Regions from separate parts of the Homo sapiens genome. Here region 2 is linked to region 1. Evidence: fine-mapped expression QTL. A gene starts in region 1. The other region holds a variant in brackets. All regions are shown on one strand. Distances are from middle to middle. Region 1 holds the start of CCDC32 (coiled-coil domain containing 32). Region 2 has its middle 35 kb from the start of CCDC32.

Region 1 (5,377 bases):
AAGCACTGGCATAGACCATGTAGAGTAGACATTTGTCATATTCTGTAAACATCCAGCATCTTCCGAACACCCTTCTTTTGGGTGGGGAATTTCTCACATTTCATTACTGCCCCCAAAAGGTAGAAGCCAGAGCCTTCCCACACTCTCTTGCAGCTTGGACATAGGCATTTGACCTGGGCTCTATCTCTTAGACAGAGGCTTTGGTTCAGAGGCACACAGCCGCGGAAGCAGGCTCAGTGTGAAATCCGTGTCTAACAAGGTAGCATTGGAGGCATCTAATCTGGGAGGCCAACAGTCGGGGAGGTTCTTGTGTCAAGTACCCAATCGACGAATAATGCCAGCTATAGATGTTCAGTGGCTGTGGGGTGTTCCCTGAGCAGTCTCTCAGTGAGATTCAGATACTGTCCCTGGCTGTATAGACCTAAAGCCTGACTCTCCACTCACCTTGAGGTTCTGTGAACTATGTAATATTCTCCAATCCTGTGCTATACAATAGGATCACCATTAGCCATGTGCTGTACAATAGCCACATGTGGCTAATTAAATTTAAATTAATTAAAATTTTAACAAGTTTTGAAACAAGATCTCACTCCCATCACCCAGGCTGGAGTGCAGTGGCACGATTTTGGCTCACTGCAGCCTTGACTTCCCAAACTGAAGTGATCCTCCCACCTCAGGCTCCCTAGTAGCTGAGACGACAGACATGTGCCACCATGACTGGCTAATTTTTTGTATTTTTAGTAGAGACGAGGTTTTGCCACATTGCCTAGGGTGGTCTCAAACTGGGCTCAAACAATCCATCCACCTTGGCCTCCCAAAGTGTTAGGATTACAGGCCGGATGTGGTGGCGCAACCTCCGCCTCCTGGGTTCAAGTAGTTCTCCTACCTCAGCCTCCTGAGTAGCTGGGATTACAGGCATGCGCCTCCACGCCCAGTTAATTTTTGTATTTTTAGTAGAAACAGGGTTTCACCATGTTGGCCAGGCTGGTCTCGAACTGCTGATCTCAGGTGATCCACACCCCCTCAGCCTCCCAAAATTCTGGGATTACAGGCATGAGCCACCAAGCCCGGCCAGGAACTGAATTTTAAATTGTATTTTAGCTGGGCGCAGTGGCTCACATCTGTAATCCTAAAACTATGTTGTTTTTGTTGTTGTTGTTTTCTTTTTCTTTCTTTCTTTTTTTTTTTGAGACGGAGTCTTGCTCTGTCACCCAGGCTGGAGTGAGAACTATTTCCTCAGCCAAGTTACTTGGCTACTGATGGTTGGCTGATGTCTTTCATCACGTGTTTCTTGGGAGAGAGTAACTGGTGTTGATCCTGGAAGCTGGGGATGGGGAGGGGTCGATCTCAATGAACAAGCTGGTATCTATCCCCTGAAGGATATCAAAGGTCATCTCCTTTAACAACTACAACAACAAAGCATTCTGACACACACTTCTTATGACCACTCTCTCCTTTATGTACTCTGGCCACACTTCCATCATATACTCTATAATCCTCAACGCCCCCCTCCTTTTTTTTTTTTGAGACAGTCTTGCTCTGTTGCCCAGGTTGGAATGCAGTGGTGCGATCTTGTCTCACTGCAACCTCTGCCTTCCCGGTTCAAGCGATTCTCCTGCCTGAGCCTCCCGAATAGCTAGGATTCCAGGCATGTGCCACCATGCTCAGCTAATTTTTGTACTTTTAGTAGAGACAGAGTTTCACCATGTTTCACCCAGGCTGGTCTCGAACTCCTGACCTCAGGTGATCCACCTGCCTCGGCCTCCTAGAGTACTGGGATTACAGGCGTGAGTCACCGCGCCCGGCTGTCTATCACTGTTTACTGTTATTTGTAAACTTTTATGCCTCCATGGCGGACCCCCTTCCTACACTACTAAGCTGTAAGGATCTCCAGGACTTATATCAAGTCATATGTGTCTTAACTTCACGCTTAACACAATGCTTAGAACACAGCAGGTGCTTGGTATCTATTGACTAAATGAATGAAGGAAAGCTTCATAATTTGATGAATGAGACACGAGTCTCCTGGGAGAGTAAGGAAAGAAGCCGCCGAAGTGCTCTAATTTGGGTAACGAAGGGGTGAAATTTTTAGAAGACAAACACCGACAGAGAAAGTTGTGGAGGAGGTGAACTGGCTCCGGCGACTAGGAAAAGTCAAAAGTCTTGGAAACGACTTCCCTATCCAAGCAGGGACTGGAACCCTGGATCTGCAAGGAATCAACCTGGCCCTCGGGAGGGGAGGGGCAATGCTCAGGGCACGTGACTCCACCGTTTCCCGGCAACCAGAGCCCCGTCCACCGCTCGCCTCTTGCTGCTCCTCACTTCTTCACCACGCTGAGCTCCTCTCGACCAATCGACGCACAGAACATCGTCGGGTGGGAAGGTAGTTGGAGGACTCCTGGGCTCCGTCACTAGGGGACTCCGCCCCTCCCGATTTCCTCCGGGCTACAGGCGACAGAGCTGAGCCAAGCGTTTACTGGGCAGCTGTTACGGTAAGTGAGGAGGGGCTGGGGTGCCCAGCGTTTTGGATCTCCCACTCTGGCCCGGCCCCGGAATACCACATAGAGGCCTTGGGACCTGATTCATCCCGTCCAGACAGCCCTAGAGACCTGAGCGACTGAGGCCTGGGATCTGGACGCCGGAATTTCCTGCGTGGTTCTGGACGCCCTGCCCTGGGGTAAGGGGCCATGCGGGGCTCTGGTGTGAGCAAAGTTTTGGTTTTGGGTGGCTTTAGACGAATTCGGGTTGGGGGTTCACTGTAGCGCTAGACATCAGTTCACCCAGGACCGCCGTGTCATAGCTGTCCCTTTTACTTCCGGCCTTTACGCTGGCTGGGCTCTGTCTCCTGGCATTATTCAGACCTTGCCTCAGGCAGCCTTCCTGATTTCTAAGTCTCCTCTTGAAAGAAGGTGTCAGCCTGTCTCATATGCCTAGATAGTTATAAAAGCCTCCAGGCTCTTTGCGTAGCTTTTCCTACCTGCCCGTGCTTGGGCTGCTTTCGTTATATTTTCCAAACAAGCAGGATGGTATTTGATAAAAACATGGATTCTGGAGCAGCACAGATCTGGTTTTCCTGTCAAGGATTCCCCACATATCAGTAATGTGCCCTAGAGCAAGTTACCCTTCTGAACTTGTTTTTTCATCTGTAAAATGGTGAAAATACCTACCTTTCAGTGATTGTATTAAAATAAGAGCATGAGACATACGGCTGAACTGCATGCGCTGAGCACACAGCCCTTGCATTGTAACAGTACTCTCTGACAGACACTTTTTACCAAGCAGGATCTTCATGTATATGGAACTGTGGAAAGACCTTTAGTCTGTGTTCTGTTGAAAACAGAATTTAGGGGCCGGGCGCGGTGGCTCACGCCTGTAATCCCAGCACTTTGGGAGGCCGAGGCGGGCGGATCACAAGATCAGGAGATCGAGACCACCCTGGCTAAACGGTGAAACCCCGTCTTTACTAAAAAATGCAAAAAATTAGCCGGGCGTGGTGGCGAGTGCCTGTAGTCCCAGCTATTTGGGAGGCTGAGGCAGGAGAATGGCGTGAACCCGGGAGGCGGAGGTTGCAGTGAGCCAAGTTAGCGCCACTGCACTCCAGCCTGGGCGACAGAGCGAGACTCTGTCTCAAAAAAAAAAAAGAAAGAAAGAAAGAAAAAAAAACAGAATTTAATTGACTGGAGATAGAACTGTTGCATTTTGGAGATCTTTGGAGAAAAGTGCAGGCTGGTTGTCCAACCTGGAAATGCCCTACAGATTTGTGTGTGTGTGTGTGTGTGTGTGTGTGTGTTAAAATATATGTAGCATAAAATTGACCATTTTAACTATTTTTGTGTGTATGATTCAGTGGTGTTCACATTGTTGTGCAACCATAACTACCATCCACCTCCAGAACTTTTTCATTTTCCCAAACTGAAACTGTGTACCCATTAAACAGTAATTCCCCATTCTTTCTACCTCCCAGCCCCCAGCTCCCACCATCCTATTTTCTGTATCTATGAATTTGACTACTCAGGTACCTTATATAAGTGGAATCACAGTATCTGCCTTTTGTGTATGGCTTGTAGGAATTCCATTTTTATTTTTATTTTATTTATTTATTTGTGAGACAGGGCCTCGCAATGTCACCCAGGCTGGAGTGCAATGGCGTGATCACCACTCACTGCAGCCTCTATCTCCTGGGCTAAGGTGATCCTCCTACCTCAGCCTCCGGAGTAGCTGGGACTACAGGCATGTGCCACCACACCTGTCTAATTTTTGTATTTTTAGTAGAGATGGGATTTTGCCATGTTTCCCAGGCTGGTCTCGAACTGCTGGCCTCAAATGATCTGACTGCCTCGGCTTCCCAAAGTGTTGGGATTACAGTCGTGAGCCACTGTGCTCAACCTTATGCTGTATTCTTAAAGCCAGTTCTTACTCACTTGAGCTTCTGTTTTATAGCTCAGATTCCAAATGAAAATGTTTGAGAGCGCTGACTCTACAGCCACAAGATCTGGCCAGGATCTCTGGGCTGAAATTTGTTCCTGTCTGCCAAATCCTGAACAAGAAGATGGTGCCAACAATGCATTCTCAGACTCCTTTGTGGATTCTTGCCCTGAAGGTGAAGGCCAGAGGGAGGTGGCTGACTTTGCTGTCCAGCCAGCTGTAAAGCCTTGGGCTCCCTTGCAGGATTCAGAAGTGTATTTAGCATCTCTAGGTAAGTTTGACGGCTCTAGGGAAGCATATTGAAGTTCTGTTACATCAAACTTGGTTTCCTATTCTTTTGTGTTGTTGTTATTCCTGTCACACGTATCTGTCAGATATAATTCCAAGGGATGTTTCAAGCCGGCTGTTGGGAAGCAGCCCCCTTTTCCTTGAACAGATCTTTTTTTATTTTTATTTTTAATTTTTTGAGACTTTCACTCTTGTTGCCCAGGCTGGAGTGCAGTGGCGTGATCTTAGCTCATGGCAACCTCCACCTCCCGGGTTCAAGCGATTTTCCTGCCTCAGCCTACCGAGTAGCTGGGATTACAGGCGCCTGGCACAATGCCCGGCTAATTTTTTGTATTTTTAGTAGAGATGGGGTTTCATTTCACCATGTTGGCTAGGCTGGTCTCGAATGCCTGACCTCAGGTGATCCACCTGCCTCGGCATCCCAAAGTGCTGGGATTACAGGCATGAGCCGCCGTGACTACCCGAACAGCTCTTAAAACAGTTTTTGTCACTTCCTGCCTCTGCCCAGTTCATCTAAATTCTGTGTTTGATTTCTTGGCATTCTGTAGAACCCTCTTGCCTACTGTTGGTTGCCCGTATATTCAAATAACTCAAAAGTGTTAAACCTTATGCCATCCTGCAAGAAAATGTGATGGCCCCAGGGCTACATGTGGATTTCTGATGC
Region 2 (5,377 bases), 34 kb after region 1:
TAGCAGGATCATGAGGGTCAAACAAGATAATGCCTGTATGTAGCCTGTGGTGGGCAGCACCTGGTACAGAGCTCATGATGAACCATTATCCTCTTCCTCTTACATGTCCACCAACAGGAGAATAGAAATTATGATATATAATATTGTAAATTGGCCAGGTGCAATGGCTCATGCCTGTAATCCCAACACTTTGAGAAGCTGAGGCAGGAGGATTGCTTGAGCACAGGAGTTTGAGACCAGCCTGGGCAACATGGTGAAACCCCCTACCTCTACAAAAAATAAAAAAAATTAGCCAGGTCTGGTGGCACGCGCCAGCCTGAAGTGGGAGGATCAACTGAACCCGGGAAGTCGAGGCTGCAGTGATCTGTGATCATGCCACTGCATTCCAGCCTGGGTGACAGAGTGAGATTCTCTCTCAAAAAAAAAAAAAAAAAAAAAAAAAGAAAGAAAACAAATTCAAGTAAAACAATTAAATTATAAATCATTAAAATTATAATTACAAAGAATATGCAGCAGTATGGAACAGTTTATAACTAATGTTAAGTGAAAAAAAGCAGACTACAAATTTGTCCATGATTACAACTGGGTAAAAATAATTTAAGATCTATGCAAAAATAAGGAGACAAGATGATGGGCTCATGGTGAACAGCTGTGAAGCAGGGATGAAAATTAATGTGCCCAGAAGCAGATTCTCTTTGAAGCATCTTTTTTCATACTACCTGATAAGTGTCTTGCTACATGGCAGTAGCAGCAGTAAGACGGGTGATATCAAAGAGAACTATCTGGAAACATTTATCTTCAATCCAAAATGGAGCCTTATGTTTGTCATAAATCTACGTACTCTTCTTTTCCAGGTGACTACAATTGCAAAGTAGAATTTGCTTTGACACCTGATGCCAGGACAATAGTATGTTACCATCCTTCTATAGACATTCCATATGAACGCACAAAACCTATCCCTTGACCAGATCCTGTGTATAATAATGAAGAAACACATGGTCAAGTGCTGAAAACTAGAGAAGAAAAAAGTGAACACCTTGAGCGAGAACCCATAATAGAACAACTTAGCAAAATGTTCTTTATGCTAAGTACGGTTGGCATCTTCGTGGACATTAGCACAGATGTCAGAAGAAACCGGAACCTCCAGAAGACAGATGATATTGAGGTTCTTGGGGAATTAAAGAGAAATATTACCCTCTGCCTCATTTGCCATTGGAGACAGTGCAATCTGGTGTATGCACTAATAATAATAATAACATGTCTTTTCATATTTAAAAAAAAAACACAAAATCTTTAGGAAGCCGAGGTGGGTGGATCGCTTGAGTCAGGAGTTTGAGAGCAGCCTGAGCAACATAGACCCCATCTCTAAAAAAAATTAGCCAAGTGTGGTGATGTGTGTCTGTGGTGCCAGCTACTTGGAAGGCTGAGGTAGGAGGATTGCTTGAGCTCAGGAGGTTGAGGCTGCAGAGAGTGGTGATCATGCCTCTGCATTCCAGCCTTGGTGACAGAGCAAGACCCTGTCTCAAACAACAACAACAACAAAAATCAAAATCTATGCAAAATTTAAACCCAATCTTGCGCTAGTCTTGTGGGAATGAAGATTAATTTACCTAAAAATGCTCCTCTGGTTTTTGTAATTCTTTTTGTTACTTTTTAAAAATATAAATTTGGCCAGGCACGGTGGCTCACACCTGTAATATCAGCTACTCGGGAAGCTGAGGCAGGAGAATCGCTTGAACCTGGGAGGCGGAGGTTGCAGTGAGCCGAGGTCCCGCCACTGCACTCCAGCCTGGGTGACAGAGTGAGACTCTGTCTCAAAAAAAAAATAAAAAAAAAGAAATATAAATTTAAGGGGTATAGGTGAAGTTTTGTTACATAGATATATTACACAGTGTTGAAGTCTGGGCTTTTAGTGTAACCATCATCTAAATAATGCACATTGTACCCCCTGATTTCCTATCCTTCACCCACCTCCCACCCTCCTACCCTCCCAAGTCTCCAGTGTCTACTATTCCACACTCTGTGTTCATGTGTACACATTTAGCTCCCACTTATAAATGAGAACATGCAGTAAAAAATATGGAACACTTCACAAATTTGCATGTCATCTGTATCAGTCCACTTTGCATTGCTCTAAAGGAATATCTGGCCAGGTGCGGTGGCCCATGCCTGTAAACCCAGCACTTTTGAAGGCTGAGATGGGTGGATTGCTTGAGCTCAGGAGTTCAAGACCAGCCTGGGCAACATGGCAAAACCCTGTTTCTACAAAAAATACAAAAATTAGCCGGGTGGTGGCGCACGCCTATAATCCCAGCTACCCAGGAAGCTAACTAAGGTGGGAGTATCACTTGAGCCCGGGAGTCAGTTCCAAGATTGTGCCACTGCACTCCAGCCTGGGTGACAGAGTGAGATCCTGTCTCAAAAAAAAAAAAAAGGAATACCTGAGACTGGGTAATTTATAAAGAAAAGTGGTTTATTTGGCTTACGGTTCTACAGGCTGTATGAGAAGCATGGCACCAGCATCTGCTGCTGGTGAGGCCTCAGGAAGCTTACAATCATGGTGGAAGGCAAAGCGGACCTAGTGTGTCACATGGCAAGAGAGGGACCAAGCAAGAGAGAGAGAGAGGAGGTGCCAGGCTCTTTTAAACAACCAGAGAGAGAGAGAGAGGGAGAGAGAGAGAAAAAGAGAGAGGAGGTGCCAGGCTCTTTTAAACAACCAGATCTCACGTGAACTCAGAGTGAGAGCTCACTCACTACCATAAGGACAGTACCAAGCCATTCATGAGGCATCTGCTCCCATGACCCAAACATCTCCCATTAGGCCCACCTCCAACATTGGAGGTCACTTTTTTTTTTTTTTTTTTTGAGATGTAGTTTCGCTCGTTGCCCAGGCTGGAGTGCAATGGCACAATCTTGGCTCACTGCGACCTCTACCTCCCAGGTTCAAGTAGTTCTCCTGCCTCAGCCTCCCAAGTAGCTGGGATTACAGGCATGTGCCACCACGCCTGGCTCACTTTTTGTATTTTTAGTAGAGATGGGGTTTCACCATGTTGGCCAGGCTGGTCTCGAACTCCTGACCTCAGGTGATCCACCCACCTTGGTCTCCCAAAACGCTGGGATTGCAGGTGTGAGCCATCACGCCCGGCCTGAGGTCACATTTTAACAC[G/A]AGATTTGGAAGGGACAAAGCATCCCAACCGGCTGGGCGCAGTGGCTCACACCTGTAATCCCAGCACTTTGGGAGGCCGAGGCAGGCAGATCACAAGGTCAGGAGATCGAGACCATCCTGGCTAACACACTGAAACCCCGTCTCTACTAAAAACACAAAAAATTAGCCAGGCGCAGTGGCGGGTGCCTGTAGTCCCAGCTACTCAGGAGGCTGAGGCAGAAGAATGGTGTGAACCCGGGAGGCGGAGTTTGCAGTGAGCCGAGATCGCGCCACTGCACTCCAGCCTGGGCGATAGAGCGAGACTCCGTCTCAAAAAAAAAAAAAAAAAAAACCATCCAAACCATCTGATCATCCTTGCGCAGGGGCCATGCTAATCTCTGTATGTTCCAATTTTAGTATATGCACTGCGGGAAGAGAGTACTCACTTTTTATTTTGATACAATTTCAAACTTACAGAAAAGTTGAATGTACAAGGAATTTCCAAATACCTTTTCCCCAGATTCACTGACGTTACCACATTATGTGCATGTGCTTGCTCTCTCTCCCTCTGCTTTTTCTCTCTGCATATAAACGCATTTCCTAAGAATAAACACATAACCAACCAAAGAATAGAGTTTCTATTATTTGTACTATTTTCACAAATAAAAAGACTGAGGAAAGGTGTGCTCTTTTCCTGTGATCCTGGGCCACAATTTCACCAGGTTCAGGATGCAAGGCCCTTTTCTGTATTCTTCGGACCTCTGTCATCTGAAAACACCGGCAAACCACCACTCCAGTGATGCTGCCATGTGTTAAGCTTCCCCTTAAGACCCCTGGCAGAGAGTAGCATATTGTGCACCAAGGTTGTGTGGGAAAAGGGGCTGAGATGAAGCCACCCCTGCAGAGCGGCAGCTTCTAGTGTACGTGTGGGTCCACAGAGGTTTCTGTGACCCTGGAAGCCTGTCCAGCTGAGCTGACCTTCACCAGGGAAGAGAATCTCCAGACAAAGGCACTTAGCTGCCTACTGGGTCCCCACCGAAAGACTGCTGAAAATATTTCTTCAGAATGCTGAGCGCTGAATACCACTCAGCACGTGCTGGAGCCAGAGGTGGTTAGACACGAGTCTGTCCTTGGAAATCCCAGGCTCAGAGCCACCATTATGCAAAGAGGACTGTTGAGGGGTTTTCTTTTACTTTTCTTTTCTTCTCTTTTTTTTAATAGTTTTTTGAGAAATGGGATCTGTGCTAAGGGCTTTGGGCAGGCCAGCTAGGAGGACGGAAGAAGTTTCCCATTCGCTTGTGGACAAGGCCTGCACCCATATAATCAACTCCAACCCACCTCCGTCATCACCAGGGTAACATCCCTGCCCAATCTCTCCTCAGGCCTTCTGCATTACCAGACCTGGTGTCTTCCCCTCCCTGGATTTGAGGGCCCTGGACTCTTTGCAGCCTCTACCTCATGCCCAACCAGGACAAGCCTTGAGCACAGGCAAAACAGATTCCACAGTCTGCATCCCATGGCAAAGAATTTCATGTCATTCCCTCCTCCACTCCTCCCTTGGTCTGGCCTTGCCTTGAGACCCAGTCCTGGCTCCACGCAAGCTCCAGGGTTAATGATGGCCTTGCCTCTGCTACTCTTCCCTTCACTCTCAGACTCCCCCACCCCCTGGGCTGTTACTTCTTAACTTTTTGATTTAGAGAAGTTAGTCTCTCTGGGCCTGTTTCCTCATCTGAAAAAATGAGATAATGACATTTACCTTAGAGGGTGGTGGTGAGGGAGAAAGAAGACCAAGTGTGTGAACGTACATGACTGACCGTGCAAGTGTTAGCCAAATCCGAATCTTCCCCATGAGAGCGGCCAGAGCTTCGCCTCTCTCAGTTTACACTTTAGAAGTGCCCTGTGCTGAAGGTTGTAAACTGCTCAGTCAGTATCGACCGCTGAGGCTGATTTCTGTTGAAAAGATTATTGCCCATTTTTATCTATCAAATTGACAAAATTACTGAAGATAGGCCACAGGGAGTAGGGGAAAGGGCCTTCTTGTACACTAGTAGTAGCGGAATGAATGGGTACAATCTTGATACCTGGTATCTTAGTCTGTTTTCTGTTGCTTATAACAGAATATCTAAAACTGAGCAATTTATAAAGAAAAGAAGTGTATTTCTTACTCTTATGGAGGCTGAGAAGTCCAAGGTCAAGGGGCTGTATCTGGTGAGAGCCTTCTTGCTGGTGGGA

Evidence for each region. PIP is the estimated chance that this variant, and not a neighbour inherited with it, causes the effect.
Region 2: its variant is the best candidate, but not a certain one, in a credible set for the expression of CCDC32 in whole blood (TOPMed, PIP 0.56).

The regions. Positions count from the first base shown.
Region 1 is chr15:40,562,091-40,567,467 of GRCh38, reverse strand. CCDC32 (coiled-coil domain containing 32) reads left to right here and starts at 2,426. Exons shown (of 4, transcript NM_001080792.4): 1 at 2,426-2,492; 2 at 4,441-4,696. The coding sequence starts at 4,453. RefSeq lists a silencer at 72-251 and enhancers at 1,204-1,498, 1,978-2,027.
Region 2 is chr15:40,527,780-40,533,156 of GRCh38, reverse strand. It overlaps a transcript of CCDC32 not described here, the pseudogene RNU6-516P and the pseudogene MRPL42P5. Among named protein-coding and RNA genes, the nearest start is that of CCDC32, 35 kb to the left of the region's middle. The variant G/A (reference allele first, on the strand shown) is at 3,167.